2 separate regions of the Homo sapiens genome follow, and region 2 is linked to region 1. A link means that fine-mapping ties the variant in region 1 to the expression of a gene that starts in the linked region. Tissue or cell type: testis. Region 1 holds a variant in brackets; the other region holds the start of a gene. All regions are shown on one strand. Distances are from middle to middle.

What was found. PIP is the estimated chance that this variant, and not a neighbour inherited with it, causes the effect.
Region 2: it holds the start of SYCE1, and the variant in region 1 is fine-mapped to the expression of SYCE1 in testis (GTEx, PIP above 0.99).

Annotation. Positions count from the first base shown.
Region 1 is chr10:133,490,318-133,501,201 of GRCh38, forward strand. It overlaps LOC105378575 (a long non-coding RNA gene), which reads right to left. Exons shown (of 5, transcript XR_946512.3): 5 at 1,107-2,524. Among named protein-coding and RNA genes, the nearest start is that of CYP2E1, 32 kb to the right of the region's middle. RefSeq lists an enhancer at 131-180 and a silencer at 7,206-7,285. The variant T/C (reference allele first, on the strand shown) is at 5,056.
Region 2 is chr10:133,560,741-133,570,602 of GRCh38, forward strand. SYCE1 (synaptonemal complex central element protein 1) reads right to left here and starts at 4,843. Exons shown (of 13, transcript NM_001143764.3): 1 at 4,717-4,843. The coding sequence starts at 4,789. It also overlaps the pseudogene SPRNP1.

The sequences.
Region 1 (10,884 bases):
GTTCTCTTACCAACTACTCAGAGTGTTTTCACTTCTCTGTGGGCCTGGAAGTGGTCTCATCTTTTTATTTGAGTTCTGGGATATTTCTGGTGATAATCTTTGTTTTTGGTTTTCTGTGGGAGAGAGTGAAACCAGTTTGCTTCTATTCTACATTGCCTTTTGAAACTAGAAAAAAAACCTCTCTTTTTTGAAGAGCTTGTGTGCTTAGGTCAGGCTTACCAGGAAAATCTCACTGTCTTAAGGTTAACTATGCCATGTAATGTAACATAATCACATGTATGTTAAAAGTGCTACTTGAATTAATAAGTGAGTTTATCAAGGTCATATAAAGTAAAACATACAAAAATAAATAGTGTTTTATGTACTAATAACAAGGATTGGAAATTGCAATCAAATAAACACCATTTGCAATTGCATCAAAGGCATGAAATAAGGATAAATTTAGCAAAATGTGTTTAAGACTTAAGTACTATGATCACAGCATTGTTGCTAAAACTCAAGGGAGATAAAAATAAGTGGAGATACACGCTATGATTGCAGAGTCAATATTGATAATATTTCAGTTCTTCCAAAATTGAACTAGTACCTAGAAATTGACATTTGATTTTAAATTTTATATGGTTATTCAAATGTCATATAGTATTTTACACAATTTTGAAGAACAAGAAAGAACATAATTAGGGAAATAAAATGACTTGATTTGAACATTTACTTTAAAGCTATTATTTAAAGACAGTCTGCTATTGATATAAGGATAAATATGTAAGGATAAATATTCAGAAATGAATAAACCTATACCTAAATGGTCAATTGATCTTTAACGAAGGATCAATACAGTTTAATCTAATCAGGGAAAAGATAGTCTTTTTTTTTTTTTTTAATGGAGTCTTGCTCTGTCACCTAGGCTGAAGTACAGTGGTGTGATCTCGGCTCACGGCAACCTCTGTCTCCCAGGTTCAAGCAATTCTTATGCCTCAGCCTCCAGAGTAGCTAGGATTACAGGTATGTATCACCATGCCCAGCTAATTTTTGTATTTTTAGTAGAGACAGGGTTTCACATGTTGGCCATGCTGGTCTTGAACTCCTGACCTCACGTGATCTGCCCACCTCGGCCTCCCAAAGTGCTGGGTTTACAGGCATGAGCCTCCATGCCCAGCCAAAAGATAATCTTTTCAAAAATGGTGTTGAAACAACTGGTTACTTATATATAGAAAAGAAATAACTGGTTATGTATATAGAAAAGAATGAACCATAATCCCTCCCTCAAACCATATATGAACATTAAACAGATCATATACCAAAACAGTAAAGCTAAACTAAAAGCTACTAGAAAAAATATGCAACTTTTGGGTATACAAAAATTTTGTAGGTAGTACACACACAAAAAGCACAAACCACCAAAGAAAATAATTTACAAAGTAGGCTTTATAAAAATTAGAAACCTCTGCTTTTTGAAAGACATAGATAAGAAAATGAAAAGGCAAACCACAAACCTGGAGAAAATATTCATAACATATATATTAGACAAAAGTTGTATTTCCATATTATATAAATAATTCTAAAAATTCAATAATAGGGAGACAATCAACCTAATTGTTTTTTAAAATGGTTAACTGATACAAACAGACCCTACATAAAAGAACTTATATGCATAGCCAATCAGCATGTGAAAAGATGTTCAACGTCATTAGTCATCAAGGAACTAGAAATTATAAGCAAAATGGGATACCATTAGAGACCCACTAACATTAAAGAAACTGACAATTTCAAGTGTTGGAAACAATGTAGAACAACTGCAACAACCGTAAATTTCTGGTGGAAATGTAAAATGGCAAAACTACTTTGGGGAAAAAATGGCTTTTTTTAGAAAGTTGAACGTATACTCCTAGGGATTTATATAAGAGCTTGAAAAACATATATCAACACAAAGGCCTATGTATTTATGCTTACCCCAACTTTATCCAAATTAATCTAAAGCTAAAATTAAGACAAATATCCATCAATAGATGATGGACAAAACAATTGTGATATATCTATATAATGGAATAGGATTTAGCAATCTATATAATGGAGTATAATTATATGAATGTGATACATCTATATAATGGAATAGGACTTAGCATGCATTCATCCATGCACCAACATGGATGAATCTGAAAAGTGTTTAGATTAGCAAAAGAAGATAGATACAAAATAAGTTCATATTGTATAATTCCATTTATATAAAACTGCACAATAAGAGAACTAATGTAAAGTGAGAGAATAGTGATTGCTTGGGGCTGAGATGAAGGATTTGTATCAAAAGGGCAGAGAAGAGCTTGTTAGGGTAATTGAAACGTTCTGTATCATGATGTGGAGGTGTTTACATGGGTGTATAAGCTTTTGAGAACTTATCAAATTATACACAAATATGTACATTTTATTATATGGAAATTATATCTCATTAAAGTTGATACAAAACAAGAATCCAGAACTCTATTTTGACATCTGGTGGACATCGCTCCAATCATGATTCCATGTCTCTCTGCATATACAGAAAGAAAGTTAAATTTGTATAGCTAGAGAACTGCTTAGATTAGGTTGAAAGATAAAATTTTATGAGAATATCATATATGTTTTAAAAGCAAGTTTTAGCTATATTTACTAATAAAAAGAAAGGAAACTGATGAAGCTAAAGAAGTTCAGGAAAATATTTCTCATAAAGATTAGTTTCCAAGAAACTACATTACTACATATCCTCACCCTGTGAGGGCACAAAACGCCCTGACAAACCTCATTTCAGTTTTTCCTTCTTGGAGATTAGTCTGTTATTCTTAAATCAGGGGCTTATCAGGGTCTCTGTGTTTCTTCCCAGGGAAAGAGTGGGCATCTAGAATGTGGGAGGTAATACATAATACCTCCAAATCTCCAGGGCGTATTTATTTCTTCAGACATCATGCTTACTGCCCCCCACTTTTTTTTTTTTTTAGAAAGAAAGAACAAAAAAGAGAAGGAGAGTAAATTCTTGTTTCCAAGTTAGACAAGAGAGTTATGATTAAATGCCACCTTGGGTCCACAAGTCTTCCATAAGAAAAACAATGAAAGGATTTCTGGATGATTCTATTATGACATCACAACTTGCAGCAGAGGCAGATGTAATGAGGCAATACTTGACATTGTTTTCAGGGCATTTGGTAGGTTCAATGGGAAACAAAACTCTTAAAACCCCTATCTGCTGGCTGGTGCTTAAAGTTTCTATCTCAATTGTCTTAGTCCATTTAGTGTTGCTATAAAGGAATAGCTGGGGCTGGGTAATTTGTAAAGAAAAGAGGTTTATTTGGCTCATGGTTCTGCAGGCTGTACAGGAATCATGGTGCCAGCATTTGCATCCGATGATGGCACAGGCTGTTTTCATGCATGGTGGAGGGTGAAGTGGAGCTGGCGTGCAGGGATCACATGGCAAGGCAAGAGGGGAAGTGAGTGAGTGAGTGAGCAAGACAAAGAGGGGAAGTGTATTAGTCCATTTTCATGCTGCTGATAAAGACATACCTGAGACTAGGCAATTTACAAAAGAAAGAGGTTTAACTGGACTTACAGTTCCACGTGGCTGGGGAAGGTCTCAGAATCATGGTGGAGGGCGAAAGGCACTTCTTACATGGCAGTGGCAAGAGAGAATGAGGAGGGAGCAAAAGCAGAAACCCGTGATAAACCCATCAGATCTTGTGAGACTTTTTCACTACCATGAGAATAGCACAGGAAAGACCAGCCCCTATGATTCAATTACCTCCCACTGGGTCCCTCCCACAAAACATGGGAATTCTGGGAGATATAATTCAAGTTGAGATTTGGGTGGGGGCACAGGCAAACCATATCATTCCACTCCTGGCCCCTCCCAAATCTCATGTTCTCACATTTCATAATCAATCATGCCTTCCCAACAGTCCCCCAAAGCCTTAACTCATTTCAGCATTAACTCAAAAGTCCACAGTCCAATGTCTCATCTGAGACAAGAAAACTCCCTTCTGCTTACAACCCTGTAAAATCAAAAGCAAGTTAGTTACTTCCTAGATACAATGTGGGTACAGGCATTGGGCAAAAACAGCCATTCCAAATGGGAGGAATTGGCCAAAACAAAGGGGCTACAGGCCCCATGCAAGTCCAAAATCCATCAGGGCAGTTAAATCTTAAAGTTCCAAAATTATTTCCTTTGACTCCACATCTCGCATCCAGGTCACACTGATGCAAGAAGTGGGTTCCCATGGTCTTGGGCAGCTCCGCCCCTTGGCTTTGCAGGATACAGCCTCCCTCCCGGCTGTTTTTATGGGCTGGTGTTGAGTGTCTGTGGCTTTTCCAGGCACACAGTGCAAGCTATCAGTGGATCTATCATCCTGGGGTCTGGAGGATGGTGGCCCTCTTCTCACAGCTCCAATAGGTGGTTACCCCATTAGGGATTCTGTTTGGGGGCTCTGACCCCACATTTCCCTTCTGCACTGCTGTGGCAGAGGTTCTCTATGAAGGCCTTGCGCTTGCAACAAACTTTTGCCTGGGCATCCAGGCATTTCCATACATCTTCTGAAATCTAGGCGGAGGTGCCCAAACCTCAATTCTTGACTTCTGTGTACCCACAGGCTCAACACCATGTGGAAGGTGCTAAGGCTTAGGGCTTGCACCCTCTGAAGCCATGGCTGGAGCTTTACCTTGGTCCCTTTTAGTCATGGCTAGGGGCAGCTGGGACACAGGACACCAAGTCCCTTGGCTGTACACAGCATGGGGACCCTGGGCCTAGCCCAGGAAGCCATTTTTATCTTGTACACCTCCAGGCCTGTGATGAGAAGGGCTGCTGTGAAGACCTCTGACATGCCCTGGAGAGGCATGTCTTTTCCCCATTGTCTTGTGAGTTAACATTCTGCTCCTCGTTACTTATGCAAATTTCTGCAGCTGGCTTAAATTTCTCCCCAGAAAATGGGATTTTCTTTTTCTATTGCATTGTCAGGCTGCAAATTTTCCAAACTTCTATGCTGTGCTTTCCTTATAAAATGGGATGCCTTTAACAGCACCTGAATCACCTCTTGAATG[T/C]TTGCTGCTTAGAAATTTCTTCCACCTGATACCCTAAATCATCTCTCTCTGGTTCAAAGTTCCACAGGTCTGTAGGGCAGGGGAAAAATGCTGCCAGTCCCTTTGTTAAACATAACAAGAGTCACCTTTGCTCCACTTCCCAACAAGTTCCTAATTTCCATTTGAGATCACCTCAGCCTGGACTTTATTGTCCATATTGCTATCAGCATTTTGGGCAAAGTCTCTAGGAAGTTCCAAACTTTCCCACATTTTCTTATCTTCTTCTGAGCCCTCCAAATTGTTCCAACCTCTGCCTGTTACCCAATTCCAAAGTCAATTCCACATTTTTGGGTATCTTTTCAGCAACACAACAGCCCACTCCTGGTACCAAAATCTGTATTAGTCAGGGTTCTCTAGAGGGACAGAACTAATAGGATAAATATTATATATGTATATATATATGTATATATGTAAATGGGAGTTTATTAAATATTAACTAACATGATCACGAGGTCCCCACAATAGGCTGTCTGCAAGCTGAGGACCAAGGAGAGCCAGTCCAAGTCCCAAAACTGAAGAACTTGGAGTCTGATGTTTGAGGGCAGGAAGCATCCAGCATGGGAGAAAAATGTAGGCTGGAAGGCTAAGCCAGTCTTGCCTTTTCATGTTTTTCTGCCTGCTTTATATTTGCTGGAAGCTCATTAGATGGTGTCCACCTGATTAAGGGTGGGTCTGCCTTCCCCAGCCCACTGACTCAAATCTCCTTTGGCAACACCCACACAGACTCACCTAGGGTTAATACTTTTTACAGTCCTTATTTCTGCAGCTGGTCATGTGGTCGTAGCTGGTATTGATGACTACCTTCTTCTATCACCCACTGTGTATTCCCTTTGCCTTCTGCAAGCACCTCATCAGATCAAGGTTTTTTTCCTGGTGGAGTGACTTAAACCTTCATTCCTGAAGGGTCTGGACCATTTGTAGTCCTCCCTGGATTGGGCTGTTGTAGTTTCTCATTGACCTTAATCACAGGGCATGGTAATACTAAGTGACATCCTAATGGATCTCCTGTATTCCATGCATGCTCCTCCTTACCTCTGTTATGGAGTAGTAGACTGATTTCATCTTGATAGTCTGGGTCAATCAACCTAGCCAACACTGTAACTCCCTTCTTAGCCTGTTTACTTAAAGGTAGGAGGAGCCCGAAGTGTCCAGGTGACAATCTTAACTTTCAGTTTAATGGAATTGTTGTTGTGTCTCCTGGTGGCAGTGTTACTCCCTCTGGAACTAAGATCTCTAGGCTAGCAGAACGTAATGTTGCAGGAACAGGAAGCAAAAATTTTGCTACTGGATCATTAGGGGTGATGGTGAGTGGTGCCACTTCCACTTCCACCCCTTGATTCCTGGACCCGTGAATCCTGGCTATGGGAGAAACAGTACCATATATCAGATGCTGATCCAGTGCATACACAGCCTTCTAGAGTACTTTGCCCCAGCCCTGCAAAGTATTGTCATCTAATTGACATGGTAATTGTAGGGTCCAGCCCCACAGGGTTGGTGCATTTTCTCCTTCTGTGTGGAGACGAGAGAGCGTAGAAATAAAAACACAAGACAAAGAGATAAAAGAAAAGACAGCTGGGCCCGGGGGACCACTACCACCAAGATGCGGAGACTGGTAGTGGCCCCGAATGCCAGGCTGCACTGATATTTATTGGATACAAGACAAAGGGGCAGGATAAGGAGTGTGGGCCATCTCCAATGATAGGGAAGGCCACATGGATCACATGTCCCCTGGACAGGGGGCCCTTTCCTGCCTGGCAGCCGAGGCAGAGAGAGAGAGGAGAAAGAGAAACAGCTTACACCATTATTTCTGCTTATCAGAGACTTTTAGTACTTTCACTAATTTGCTACTGCTAACTAAACGGCAGAACCAGGTGTACAAGATGGAACATGAAGGCAGACTAGGAGTGTGACCACTGAAGCACAGCATCACAGGGAGACGGTTAGGCCTCCGAATAACTGTGGGTGGGCCTGACTAATGTCAGGCCTTCCACAAGAGGTGGAGGAGTAGAGTCTTCTCTAAACTCCCCTGGGGAAAGGGAGACTCTCTTTCCCGGTCTGCTAAGTAGCGGGTGTTTTTCCTTGACACTAACGCTACTGCTAGACCACGGTCTGCTTGGCAATGGGCATCTTCCCAGATGCTGGCGTTACCGCTAGACCAAGGAGCCCTCTGGTGGCCCTGTCTGGGCATAACAGAAGGCTCACACTCTTGTCTTCTGGTCACTTCTCACTATGTCCCTTCAGCTCCTATCTCTGTATGGCCTGGTTTTTCCTAGTTTATGATTATAGAGTGAGGATTATTATAATATTGGAATAAAGAGTAATTGCTACTAATGATTAATGATATTCATATATAATCATATCTAAGATCTATCTCTGGTATAACTATTCTTATTTTATATTTTATTATACTGGAACAGCTCGTGTCCTCGGTCTCTTGCCTTGGCACCTGGGTGGCTTGCCACCCACAGCAATTGTGACTTTGAAAGGCCATTCCACCGTTCTATCAATCCAGCTGCTTCAGGATGATGGGCAACGTGGTAAGACCAGTGAATTCCACGAACATGAGCCCACTGCTGCACTTCTATGGCCGTAAAGTGAGTACCTTGGTCAGAGGCAATACTGTGTGGAACACCATGATGGTGGATAAGGCATTCCATGAGTCCACAGATGGTAGTCTTGGTAGAAGTATCGTGTGCAGGATAGGCAAACCGATATCCAGAATAAGTATCTATTCCAGTGAGGACAAATCTCTGCCCTTTCCATGATGGAAGAGGTTCAATATAATCAACCTGCCACCAGGTAGCTGGCTGACCACCCTGAGAAATGGTGCCATATCGAGGAATCAGTGTTGGTCTCTGCTGCTGGCAAATTGGGCACTCAGCAGTGGCCATAGCCAGATCAGCCTTGGTGAGTGGAAGCTCATATTGCTGAGCCCATTCATAACCTCCATCCCTGCCACCATGGCCACTTTGTTCACGGGTCCATTGGGCAATGACAGAGGTGCTTGGGAAAGAGGCTGAATGGTGTCCACAGAAGTGGTCATCCTATCCACTTGATTATTAAAATCCTCCTCTGCTGAGGTCACCCATTGGTGAGCACTCACATGGGATACAAATATCTTCACAGTTTTTGACCACTCAGAGAGGTCCATCCACATACCTCTTCCCCACATTTCTTTGTCACAATTTCCGATCATTCTTCTTTCAAGTCCCTGACCATCCAACCAAACCATTAACTACAGCCCATGAATCAGTATATAATCACACATCTGGCCATTTCTCCTTCCATGCAAAGTGCACAACCAGGTTCACTGCTCTTAGTTCTGCCCACTGGGAAGATTTTCCTTCCCTACTGTCCTTCAGGGATGTCCTAGAAAGGGGCTGTAGTGCTGCAGCTCTCCACTTTTGGGTGGTGCCTGCATATCATGCGGAACCATCCACGAACCAGGCCCAACTAATTATAGGGAACTTCCCATGAGGCCGTTGGGGCAGGCTCGGGGAGAGAAGGAAGGGTGGCAGGAGTGGAGACCATGGGCATTTGAACCACTTCCTCATGTAACTTACTTGTGCCTTCAGGACCTGCTGGAACCTGATCACATATATACCACTTCCATCCTGTGGTCATTTCCCTAGTGCCACTTCCATTTGATGACGGAATGCTGCTGTGCACAACCCACTTAATGGCTAGATGGGTCAGAAAGCACCCAGTTTATGATAGGCAGTTCAGGTCGCGTGGTGACTTGGTGACCTACAGTCAAACGTTCAGTTTCCACCAAAGCCCAGTAACAGGCTAAGAGCTGTCTCTCAAAAGGAGAGTAGTTATCTGCAGAAGATGGCAGGGCCTCGCTCCAAAATCCTAGAGGCCTCCACTGTGATTCACCTATGGGAGCCTGCCAAAGGCTCCAAACAGCATGCCTATCTGCCACTGACACCTCAAGCACCATTGGATATGCTGGGCCATATGGCCCAAGTGGCAGAGCAGCTTGCACAGCAGCCTGGACCTGCTGCAGAGCCTTCTCTTGTTCTGGACTCCACTCAAAACTGACAGCTTTTCAGGTCACTCAATAAATGGGCTGGAGTAACACACCCAAATGAGGAATGTGTTGCCTCCAAAATCCAAATAGGCCCACTAGGCATTGTGCCTCTTTCTTGGTTGTAGGAGGGGCCAAATGCAGCAACTTATCCTTCACCTTAGGAGGAATATCTCTACAGGCCCCATACCACTGGACCCTTAGAAATTTTACTGAGGTAGAAGGTCCCTGAATTTTAGGCAGATACACTTCCCATCCTCTGGCATGCAAATGTTTCACCAATAAGTCCAGTGTTTGCTACTTCTTGCTCACTGGATCCAATCTGCATAATGTCATCAATGTAATGGACCAGTGTGATATCTTTTGGAGGCAAAAAGCGATCAAGTTCTCTCTGAATAAGATTATGACACAAAGCCAGATAATTCATATACCCCTGAGGTAGGACAGTAAAGGTATATTGCTGGCCTTGACAGCTGAAGGCAAATTGTTTCTGGTGGGCCTTATGGACAGGAATGGAGAAAAAGGCATTTGCCAAGTCAATGGTTGCACACAAAGTACCAGGAGATGTGTTAATTTGCTCAAATAATGAAACCACATCTGGTACAGCAGCTGCAATTGGAATCATCACTTGGTTAAGCTTATGGTAATCCACTGTCATTCTCCAAGATCCATCTGTCTTCTGCACAGGCCAAATGGGAGAGTTGAATGGGAATGTGGTGGGAATCACCACCCCTGAGTCTTTCAAGTCCTTGGTGGTGGCACTAATCTCTGCAATCCCTCCAGGGACACAATATTGTTTTTGATTTACTATTTTTCTAGGTAGAGGCAGCTCTAATGGCTTTCATTTGGCCTTTCTCACCACAGTAGCCGTCACCCTACCAGTCAGGGAGCCAATGTGAAGGTTCTGCCAGCTGCTAAGTATGTCTATGCCAATTATGCATTCTCGCACTAGGGAAATGACCACAGGATGAGTCCAGAGACCCACTGGACCCACTGTAAGTCAGACCTGAGCTAAAACTTCATTAATTACCTGACTCCCATAAGCCCCTACTTTAACTGGAGGACCACAATGACGTTTTGGGTCCCCTGGAATCCATGTCAGCTCAGAGCCAGTGTCCAGTAGTCCCTGAAATGTCTGATCATTTCCCTTTCCCCAGCGCACAGTTATCCTGGTAAAAGGCCAGAGGTCTCCTTGGGGAAGGATGGGAGAAAGATTCACTGCATAAATTGCTGGTAATGTAGTAGGGTCCTTCCTAATGGGAACTTGGCTTCCCCTTCATTCAAGTGGTTCTGGATCTGTAAACTGGCTCAAGTCTGGAAATTGATTAAGAGGCCATGATTCTACATTTTTATAATTCAAATTAGTCTTTTATCCATTCGACCTAGAAGTTTTCTGCTTGTATAAATTAAGTAGGAATGCAGTAGGCTTTCTATCAATTTCACTTCTAGGAACACCATGATTAATTAGCCAATGCCAGAGCTCTACACGAGTCAGACTATTCTGATTGCCGCTTTGCCTCTGCTGTCCATTATGATAGCTATGCCCACCTTGCTTTTGATAGCTGAGTGCCACCACTTGGCCCCTGCCACCTCGGGATCCAATTGTTACCATTATATTTAAGTTTTGTAGTTGAGTGACTGTGGCTCCCACCATTAGATCTGACATACAGAGAAAAGCAATTGCAAGGCTCTTCAAAGATTCAGGTGCTGCCCTCACAAATCTATTTTGCAAGGCGTTGGTCAAGGGTGTATCTTCTGGA
Region 2 (9,862 bases), 70 kb after region 1:
CATTGTGAAAGGAAAATAAATCTTTTTATAAATAAATCTTTGAAAATAAATCAATTCAAAGTCATCCCTCTGCTCACTGAGATAAATGCATATCTGATTTTGTAAAATAAATATCTGAAAATAATTCAGTCATCCTTCTTCTTACTCAGATAAATGCATATCTGATTGCCTCCTTTGGAAAGGCTAATCGGAAACTCAAAAGAATACAACCATTTGTCTTTTATCTACTTATGACCTTGAAGCAAACCCCCCTGCTTCAAGTTGTCTCATCATTGCTTTGAGTTGTCCCACCTTTCCAGATCGAACCAATGTTCATCTTACATATGTTGATTTGTGTCTCATGTCTCCCTAAAAAGCATAAAACCAACCTGTGCTCTGACCACCCTGCCACCCTGGGCACAGGTCATCAGGACCTCCTGAGGCCGTGTCACAGGCATGCATCCCTAACTTTGGTAAAATAAACTTCCTAAATTGACTGAGACCTGTCTCAGATTTTTGGGTTTCACATTTTGGCAACCACAAAGGGATTCTGAGTAGAGGTGCCCCTGACCTTTGACAAATATCCTATCAGTGCTTGCTAGCAGCTTGAGCTATCTTTATGGTTCAAACTAATATGACAAGTTGCTGAGTTCTGGAAGTCCCCCATCCAGGGAATCCCTCATTTCCCAAAATTCGCTCCAGATCCAAAGTTTATTTTTCTAAACAACTCTACTCTTTTTTTGGAGTTTTTCTTGCTTCCAACAAGGAAGGCAAGTTTTCCTGCTTCCATGAAAGTTCCTTTCTGGAGTTTGAACTCGCTCCCAACAGGGAAGACAAGTTTGAGGGTTTTTTTCCTGCTTCTAAGATGATAGAGAGCAGTCTTCAGCCTAAGACCCATCCCTAGGTAAGTAACTGAATTGGGGTTTGTCTTGGCTAAAGGTAAAATTAACAACCAGCTGGTCTTAATTTTTCCTTATCATTAGAGTGTCCAGTAACCATACAAGTTGTGTGATCATTTGTTTGTTTTGCTTAACTGGTATTTTTTTTTGTTGTTGTTTCTTTCTGTTTTTGTTGTTTTGGTCCTTTTCCTATTGGGTTTGGCCAATTCTGACTTGATCAAATCCAAAGGAAAGTTCCAAATTATGTGGAACAAGGCCTCTGAAGTGGCTAAATTCCCACCAGAAAAGGGGTGGTGGGGGAAGAAAAAACAGCCAGCAAAAGGAAAAAAGGGGGGGAAGATTTTTGATTTTGACTACTTAAGGGGATTTATTTACATAACAAGGCCACCTTTTTGCTAGCCAGGCCAAACTGAAAGAGAAAGGATTGTCACCCCAACTGCAGTTCCATAGCTAAGGTTCTGTCTTCTTTTTTCCATGACAGCCTGGGTTTGGTTCCTAAATCAAGACCTTTCTGGTTTGATACTTGGTACTTCTGAAATAGCAGATATTTGTCCTAGCTGAAATATGTTGATGAGATCTTAAAAATTTTTTAAAAAGAAACTCAAATGGTTAAAAGTCATCTTAATTAAAAGCTAACATCCAATGTGTGTGTGTGTGTGTGTGTGTGTGTGTGTGTGTGTGTGTGTGTGTGTGTGTGTATTTAAAAGGGCTTCATGATTTTTCTTTTTTCTCTCTCCTAGGACCTTGTGTTTTTTGGGCAAAAGTTTTTTTTCTTTTCAGTTGACTGAATGCTATTTTCTTCATATAGTTCTGCTGTCTCTCCTTTCCCTTGAACGCTCTGCTGCATGAGGGACCTAAAATAGTTTATAATAGCCTGAGGTTCCTTAAAGAAAATGGAGAAGGCACCAGACTCCCTTTTGTGGAGAAAATTGTTTTTCCTTGTGTATCCCCAAGAGTGTAAACACACAAGTTCATGTCAGCTCCTAAACTGTTTGCTTTTGTATTGTGTTACCTGATTTTTTTGTTTATTAATTATTGCAACAGAAGCTACTCCTGCATTTTTAAGGAAGAGTATATTTTAGACACTTAGAAATATTTTTTTAATGTTTTTTAAGTACACTGTAAAAGCATCCATGTGGTCGAGCCTCATAATAATTCTCCCTTTTTGCAGACCCAGGATTCAGTGTGGCCTCTTCCCAGAGCTCAGAGATCCAGTTAAAAGATAGGTAGTCACTATCTAAATAAAATTGGTCTCCTGTGATCCAACCACCTCCCACCAGGCCCCAACTCCAACATTGGGGATTACAATTCAACATATTTGGGTGAGGACACAGATCCAAACCATATCACAGGCCAAGGCCAAGGCCGAGGCACGGTTGAGAAGGCTCAGAGGCACCTGACCAAAGTTTGTAACAGTTTTGATTGACAATACCAAATTACCTTACACTGATGTATACAAGATGCCCAGTTTTTCATTTTTACCAATCACCTATGTTTCCAAACGTGTTTATCTTTGTCAACCAGATATGCAAAATTAAGGTGTCTCCTTACAAACTTTCTGATAGTAAATATCAAAAGTTTGGGTGCATCTTATTTTCTAAGACTATGTCCTAAGTAATTCTGGATATGGCTAATGGGCAAGGTGTTCATCACTGTATTGTTTATAATAGTGAAAAACTCGAAGAAGCCTAAATATGCCTTAGGGGATTTGTTAAATAAATTATAGCACATACACAGGATGAAATCATTTACAGCCATTAAAAATCATGCATACATGCATAAGGCCAGGCTCAGTGGTTCACATCCATAATCCCAGCACTTTTGGGAGACTGAGGCAGGAGGACTGCTCAAGCATAGGAGTTCAAGAGCAGCCTGAGCAATGCAGCAAGACCCTCTCTCTACAAATAAAAAATTTAAAAAAATTATCTGGGCATGGTGACATGTACCTGTGATTCCAGCTACTCAAGAGGCTGAGGTGGGAGAATCTCTTGAGGCCAGGAGGTCAAGGCTGCAGTGAGCAGTGATTGTACCACTGCACTCCAGCCTGGGCAACAAAGCACAATCTCGTCTCAAAAAAAAAAAAAAATCAAGCATAAAATTTTGTGAAATGCTTATTTTTGAGTTTATGGAGTCCCCTCATTTTGGTCCCACCTGAAATCTTACACAAATTACTGCTCATAAATTTTTGCATTAAGTTTTAAATTATTCAAGTAATTGGCATGTGTGAAAAAGTATGAAGAAAAAATTGAAACACCAACATTCCCTTTCCCCAGTCATTCCCCTTTCTAGTAATAACTGCAGCCAGTTAGGTGAAGACTAATAGACTTTTTACTAAAATGTATCTAGTGTCACTGACCCTAGATAACATCCCTGCTTCCTTTTTAAAACAGATAGACTAAAACTGGAATCTTGTCCTTTAAATTTCTTCTGTAGCTGGTCACTATAGAATGTTTGTGCCCCCATCCATAGTTCGTATGTTGAAATCCTAACCCCCTAGTGTGACTGCATTAGGAGGTGGGGCCTTTGGGAGGTGATTAGGTCATGAGAGTAGGGCCCTCAGCAATGGGATTAGTGCCCTTATAAGACCAGAGAGGTCTGCAGCAACTTCCCCAACATGAGGACACAATGAGAAGACAGAAGTCTATAGCCAGGAAGCAGGCCCCCACCAGACGCTGAATTGCACCTTGATCTTGAACTTCTAGCCTCGAAAACTGTGAGAAATAAGGCATTTCTGTTGTAGCAGTTTGAACTAAGGCACAAGCGACATTGGTTAAAACTTACCTAAATATACTAGGTTATGTGAGGAACATGGAGCCATGATACTGAAAGGCTAGCACACCGGCGGGCCAGCAGGTGCTTAATGAAAGGGATACGTTTGCGTCTGTCCTGTTTACTTGCTTTGTCCTTCGCTGGGGCTTTCACTGTGCCACATCTCACTGTAGGGATGCTTTCTGTGCTAAGCTTGTTTCAGTATTCAAACCTTCATTTTGTAAGAACATGACAGAGCACCTGCCATGGCATTCACGCAGGTAGGGCTGGAGGCAGCCACCGACGTTTGTTAATTGCAGAGTTTTAACTCAAGGGGGACAGATGATCTCAGGACAGAATGACAAGCTGAGTGACAGCAGGAGGGACGTCACCGTACAATTCTCTCCACTTTTCTGTAAGTTTGAAAATCCTCACAGAACACCCAGAGGCACACAGTGTCCTGAAGTGGAAACGGCCAGGACAGTGTCCTTTCTCTTTGTTGGGCTGCAATTTCTGGACTTCTGTACAACTCTGACCAGCTGCCTGTCCCCTCCCTTCCCAGGGTGAGGTAGGAGCCACTATGGCAGGTCGGGGTCAGGGAGAAACAAACGGGGGATCTGCGTGGAGTCGGCCTCCCCCGGCTCCCCGGGGCGTCGGGATGCTGGGTGGGGGGCCCCACTGTCAAGAACCAGTTTAGTGCGACTGGGAAATCTGGACACTTGCTGGTTCTAGGGAGAGGAAGGTGGAATTAGGAATTCCCTTGGGATTGGGAGCGTCAGGAAAATATCCTTTTTGTTTTAAGAGGTGTGTATGTAAAGTCTGTGGGACAACGGGAAGGGATGTCTTTTGACTAATTACCTAAACCAAAATTGGAGCAACTATGATAACAGTTCAATGCTTTAAGACAAAGTGGGGGGTGTGCGGGCAAGCACTCCCTCATCTTGGCCGAAATTTTTCTGAAGAAACCCGCTAAGTCTCAATCAGCAGCATCAGGACTGACAGGAAGAAGCAGCCGCCACCCGCGCCCCAACCCTGCCCCGCCTCGGCGAGGTCAGACCCTCACGCACAGTTCCCTGCCTCCCACCACTACCTCCGGCCTTCTCAGCCCTGTCCACGGCTCCTGCGGTGGGCTCGGCCTTCGATGTCAGGGACCTCCCCGCCATTTCCTCTCAGCTCGCCAGCGAGGGTGCCTCGGGAGGGAGCCTCCAGTGGTGATTGGAGCAACCGCCGCTGGGGGCAGGACTCCAGGCAGCGCGCCTGCGCAATGCACTCCTGCGCGCGCCTGGAGATGTGAGGTAATTCTCCGGCAGGCCTGCGTGGCACTAGTGCGCATGCGTAAAGGCGCGAGGGCTACAAACGCGGCGGGAAGCCCGCCAGGGCCACGTGCGGCCGTCCAGGCTTGCGATTGGCCCGCTGCCGGGTGCCCCCGCGCATGTGCGCTGGCTTCCGAGGGGACCGGCCCTGGTTCTGGAGGCCCTCCCCACCAACGAGCAGTACGCATGTGTAGCGCCGAAGCTTCCTGTGAAGTGTGCGTGTCTGACGGATGACGACTCCACAAGGCGCTGTGGCCCTGGCAGCCTCATGAGGTTGCGGCTCTGCGGGACCACACCGCCGCGGGAGTGCACGGGCCCCAGCGAGTGAAATCTGCGGCAGCCCCCGCTGGGCCCGCTGTTCCTGCGCGCGCAGAGGAGCGTAGCCTGCCCCTAGGCCGCGTTCCCGTGAGCTCCATGCCCACAGTGGCCGAGGCCGGCCACAAGCCCACGGTCCCTTCTGCACGGTCCCTGCCGCGCTGGGGCCACCGTGGAGGCCCGGAGGGCCCTGGGAGGAGGGAGGAGGAGCAGAGGCTTTCGGGAGAACCCAGCCCTTCACCGGCCAGGGGAGGCCGCGATGCATCGCGACTGGTTGTGAAGAGCCAGGGGAAGAACTTTACCGTGCAGGTGAGTGGGAGACATCAGAACACCTGCCTGTCCTAAATACGAAGCCTCGAATCCTAACCTATAAAAGGTTACCTTAGGGTTTAGGGTTAGGGCTACAGATTAGAGCTAGGGATTAAGGTTAGAGTTGGGGTTGGGGTTAGGGTTTAGGGGTTAGAAGTTAGTTTTGGGGTTAGGAGTGGGGTTAGAATTAGGGTTTGGGGTTAGTGTTAGGGGTAGGGGAAGGATTGGGGTAGGGTTAGGGTTGGGCTAGGGTCGGGGTAGGGGTAGGGTTTTACGGTTAGGGTCAGGGTTTTAGTGTTGGGGTTAGGGTATTGGGGTTAGGGTTTGGGGGCTAGGGGATTAGGGTCAGGGGTGGGGGTTAGGGTTTGGGATTTGGCTAAGGTTTGTAAGGGTTAGGGTTTTAGGGTAGGGGATAGGGGTTAGGGTTACGTGTTGGGGTTGGGATTAGGGTTAGGGGTTACAGTTTAGGGTAAGGGGTTAGAGTTAAGGGTTAGGGTTAGCATTAGGAGTTACAGTTGGGTTAAGGGTTAGGGGTTAGGCTTAGTGTTGTTAGGGTTAGGGTTAGGGTTAGCATTAGGAGTTACAGTTGGGTTAAGGGTTGCAGGTTAGGCTTAGTGTTGTTAGGGTTAGCTTCAGGGTTCGGTGTCAGGGTTTGGGGTGGGGTAGTGGTAGGTTTAGGGGTAGCGTTGTGTGTTAGGATTTGTGGTTACGGTTCGGGCTAGGGTTTTAGGGGTAGGCATAGGTTCGAGTTTGGGTTTGGGTGTTAGGTTTATGGCTAGCATTAGGGTAGGGGTTAGGTGTAGGAGTAGGGGTTGAGGTTATGAGTTGAGGTTAGGGTTAGGGGTCAGGGGTCCGGTCAAGGGTTGGTGTTGGATTTAGGGATTAGGGCTAGAATTAGGGGTTAGGGTTAGGGGTTTGTGTCGGGGTTGGGTTGGAGGCTTGGGTTCAGGGTCAAGTTTAGGGTTGGGGCTAGGGCTTAGGGTTATGGGTTAGTGTTAGCAGTTAGGGTTAAGGTTTAGGCTTAGGGTTTAGTGCTTGAGGTGGGGGTTAGGTGTTAGGGGTTAGGGTTAAGGGTTAGTGTTTTGCGTTAGTGGTTAGGGTTAAGGGTTATGGTTAAGGGTCAGCGTTAGGGTCAGGGGTTAGGGGTAGGGGTTGTGCTTAGTTTTAGGGTTAGGGTTCCTGGACGGATGGTTTTCCTGCTTGGGAATGTTCCTGGGCTGTGAGATCCACTCTTCTGGGCAGGTGGTTAGCACCTAACGTTTTCCCCTTACTTCCCCCCAAATTCTTAAGTCCTTTGGTCCATTTCATTACTTCTTTTGGGGAGGGCCTGATTCCTCAGGGCCTCAGTGGCAGAACCAGCCTGAGGTCACCTCCCTGTCCATGGGTTACCACGGCCCCTGGGCAGGCATGGGGAGCTGGGGTGGCTTGGGTTCCTGGCCTTGGCACCTCCCTTTGGGCGGCTCTGGAGTGTGGCTGGGCTGTTGGTACAGGAGCCACAGGCCACTGCCTTTTTGGCTGAGGGGACCCTAACATCCTGGAGCAGGTGGGGCAGGGCCCATGGTCTCCTCTAGGTGGGAGGTGGGAGGCTGAGGCGGCGTGGGCAGGCAGGTGGATGGCGAGGCAGCATGGGCAGGACGGTGGATGGCGGGTCCACAGGGGCAGCCAGCAGCTCCTGCACCCACTGGGGCTCCAAGACTGTGGGCAAGGGAGGAAGGGGGAGCCCAGGCCGGAGGATCCTGGGGGACGGTGCGGCCCGGGGGCCAGATGTGGTCACCGAGCCCAGCCAGGCCTAGGGCCGCAGCAGCCCCAGGGCACTGAGGGCGCCACCCAGCCCGACACAGAGGCACAGGCCGCCCGTGGGTCCAGCGCCCGAAGTCCACGTACAGTAGCTGTAGATGCCGAGCCGGTCCTGTTGCCTCCGGGAACCCAGTCCTCCTCGTCCTCCAGGCCGCGTTCCCCGGGTCCCGCGGCCCTTCTCCAGCCTGAGCCCGCCGCCCCGGCCGCAGCCACGCGCAGGGAGGAGCCCGGGGCACCATAGCACAGCGCCGGCCTCACACACACCCTCGAGGCCCCTCTCGAGCCCCCGCGGAGCCCTCCGCGGCCGCACGCAGAGGAAGGCTGCCTCCTGTAGCAGAGCCCAGCCATTCGCGGGTGCCCAGTTCATCTTCATGGGGCTAAACCTGCGGGAAGAGAGGGAAAGGGCCCTTAGTTTCCATGGAGATCGGGTGCCCAGAGGCGGAGGGCTCAAGGCTGGAGAGCAGAGGGACCCCCATCTTTTGTGGGATCAGGGTGCCCCCAGCATCTTGGAGGCCCACTGAGGCCTGGGGGGGCGCGGTTTAACCTCTAGCATCAGGGACTTAGGCCTGGGGGAGGCGCTGGGAAGTGGCAGGTGGGGCAGGAGGGGCAGGAGGGTTCTGCACCTGAAGGTTGTGCACCTGGATTGGGGGTGTAGAAGCGGGGCAGGAGCGTTCAGGCCTCTGGGGGCGTCCAGGCCCGGGCGGGGGAGCAAGCCTGGGGGAGGGAGCTCTGCACGCGTTGCTGGGATGTGGGGGGCGGGGGGAGGCGGCATGGGGGGAGGGGCGTTGTGTTTGGAGGACGCGGTAGCCGGGACCAAGAGCTGGCTCAGATCAGGGTCTGGAACGGGGACGGGCCGTGCCTGGGCCTGGTCCCCACCTTTGGGGCCAAAGCCTGGGTGCGGGCCTTGCGGATGCTGCGGAGGACAAGCGGCTGCTGACACCGTGCGGACTCCGCCCCAGCAGACCCGTGCCCCAGGGACAGTCCCTCCCGCGCGCGCCCAGCGCTCAATGCCGTCCCCGGCCGCCTAGTTCAGCAGCTGGCTGGGGGCGGGACGGGGTCGAGTTGCGGGGCCGCGTCCAGACACGGCTGTGCGGGCGACAGCTGCATCCCCTCCCCGCGCCGCCCCTCGCTCCCGGCCCCGTACCCGCCCCAGCCTCCCGGCCTTACCCGCCACGGGCCTCGGTTGGAACCGCGCGCTGGAGTATCCGTCCCTGAGGCCGCGGCCGAGCGGGAAGGAGCGGGCGGGCGGCGGCGCGGACCCTCAGCCGGAGCGCGGAGCCGCGGCGCCTGGGTTTTGCGCGAGGCCTCCGCCCTGGGATTGGGGCGGGCAGTCGCGGAGGCGCATCCCTGGTGAGCCGGTGGGAGGGGAAAAGGATGTCGCGTCCCCCATCCTTGCGGCCTCCCGTCCTCCGTCACCAGCCCCCTCCGTCTCCTGCATCACAAGGCCCCGTCCCCGCGGTCCCCCGCGACCCCCGCACCCGGCTCCGCTCCACCCGCCGTGCTTCCTGCCCCTCCACACCCTCGTCCCCACCCGGGCCCATCCCCCTGTGAGCCCTGGTGCCCTGGGATGAGGGCCGAGGTCCTGAGCGGAGAGGGTGCTTGTACCAGCCCCATGGTGGCTCGAGCCCACCCCGCGGCCCCTCCCGTGGCAGGTGCGGTTTCTCCACCGGTTGTCAGCTGCGGGGCCGGGCGGAGACCTCCTCAACCTCCGGCCTTGTTTCAGGGAGGATGGGGTCGACCCTTGCGATCCCCAGAGGCCCCCCATGGCTCCTTCTGGGCTGGCTGTCTTCCTCCTGTGGGTTCTGATGCCACCTGGGCCGACGGCGTCTTCTCAGCCCAGGGCGGCCGCGCCTCCGGTGAGTTTCAGCTGAGGGCGCGCGGCCAGCTCCGAGCCTGGCTCCGGGTGCAGCACCGGCCTGGGACCTCTGCTGTCCCGTGTAGGGGTGCCCTGCAAATATGTGATGAATAAGTGAAGAAATACGTTTTATCTTCTAACTTGCCGGATGTTAGAAGGAAACCAAGCTTATGCTTCTCATTTATAGCTACCGTTAAGGATTGGACAGAAGCTTAGCTTTTTGGGTGAGACGGACAACAGTGTTTTTAGAACCTTTGGCAAGGAAGAGCTGGAAAGAACATGTATTTGAAAGTGACTGACAGGTCTTCTGGCCCTAGGGGGCCACCTGAGCAGGTGCACCCAGCTTCCCTCCAAGACAGAAAATAAATTAACAAGGAGAGCAGGAAGGGCCCCGGCAGACTCCAGACGGGAGGGGGTGCTGCCCATCAGGCAGAAGGAGCTTGGAAGGGAGGGGCCGTGGCCATGGGACGTGGAGGTGGGAGCGGGGGTCATCATAGGTCTGCACACTCGGGTTGAGTCCCCCTTCCCCATCACACACAGGACAGCCAGCAGTGAGCTGCTTACCCCAAGGAGTCAAGGGGGTTCTTGGGCAACCCCTGGTGCTGGAGCCGGCAGTGGACAGCACCGCAGCCAGACCTTGCTTATTT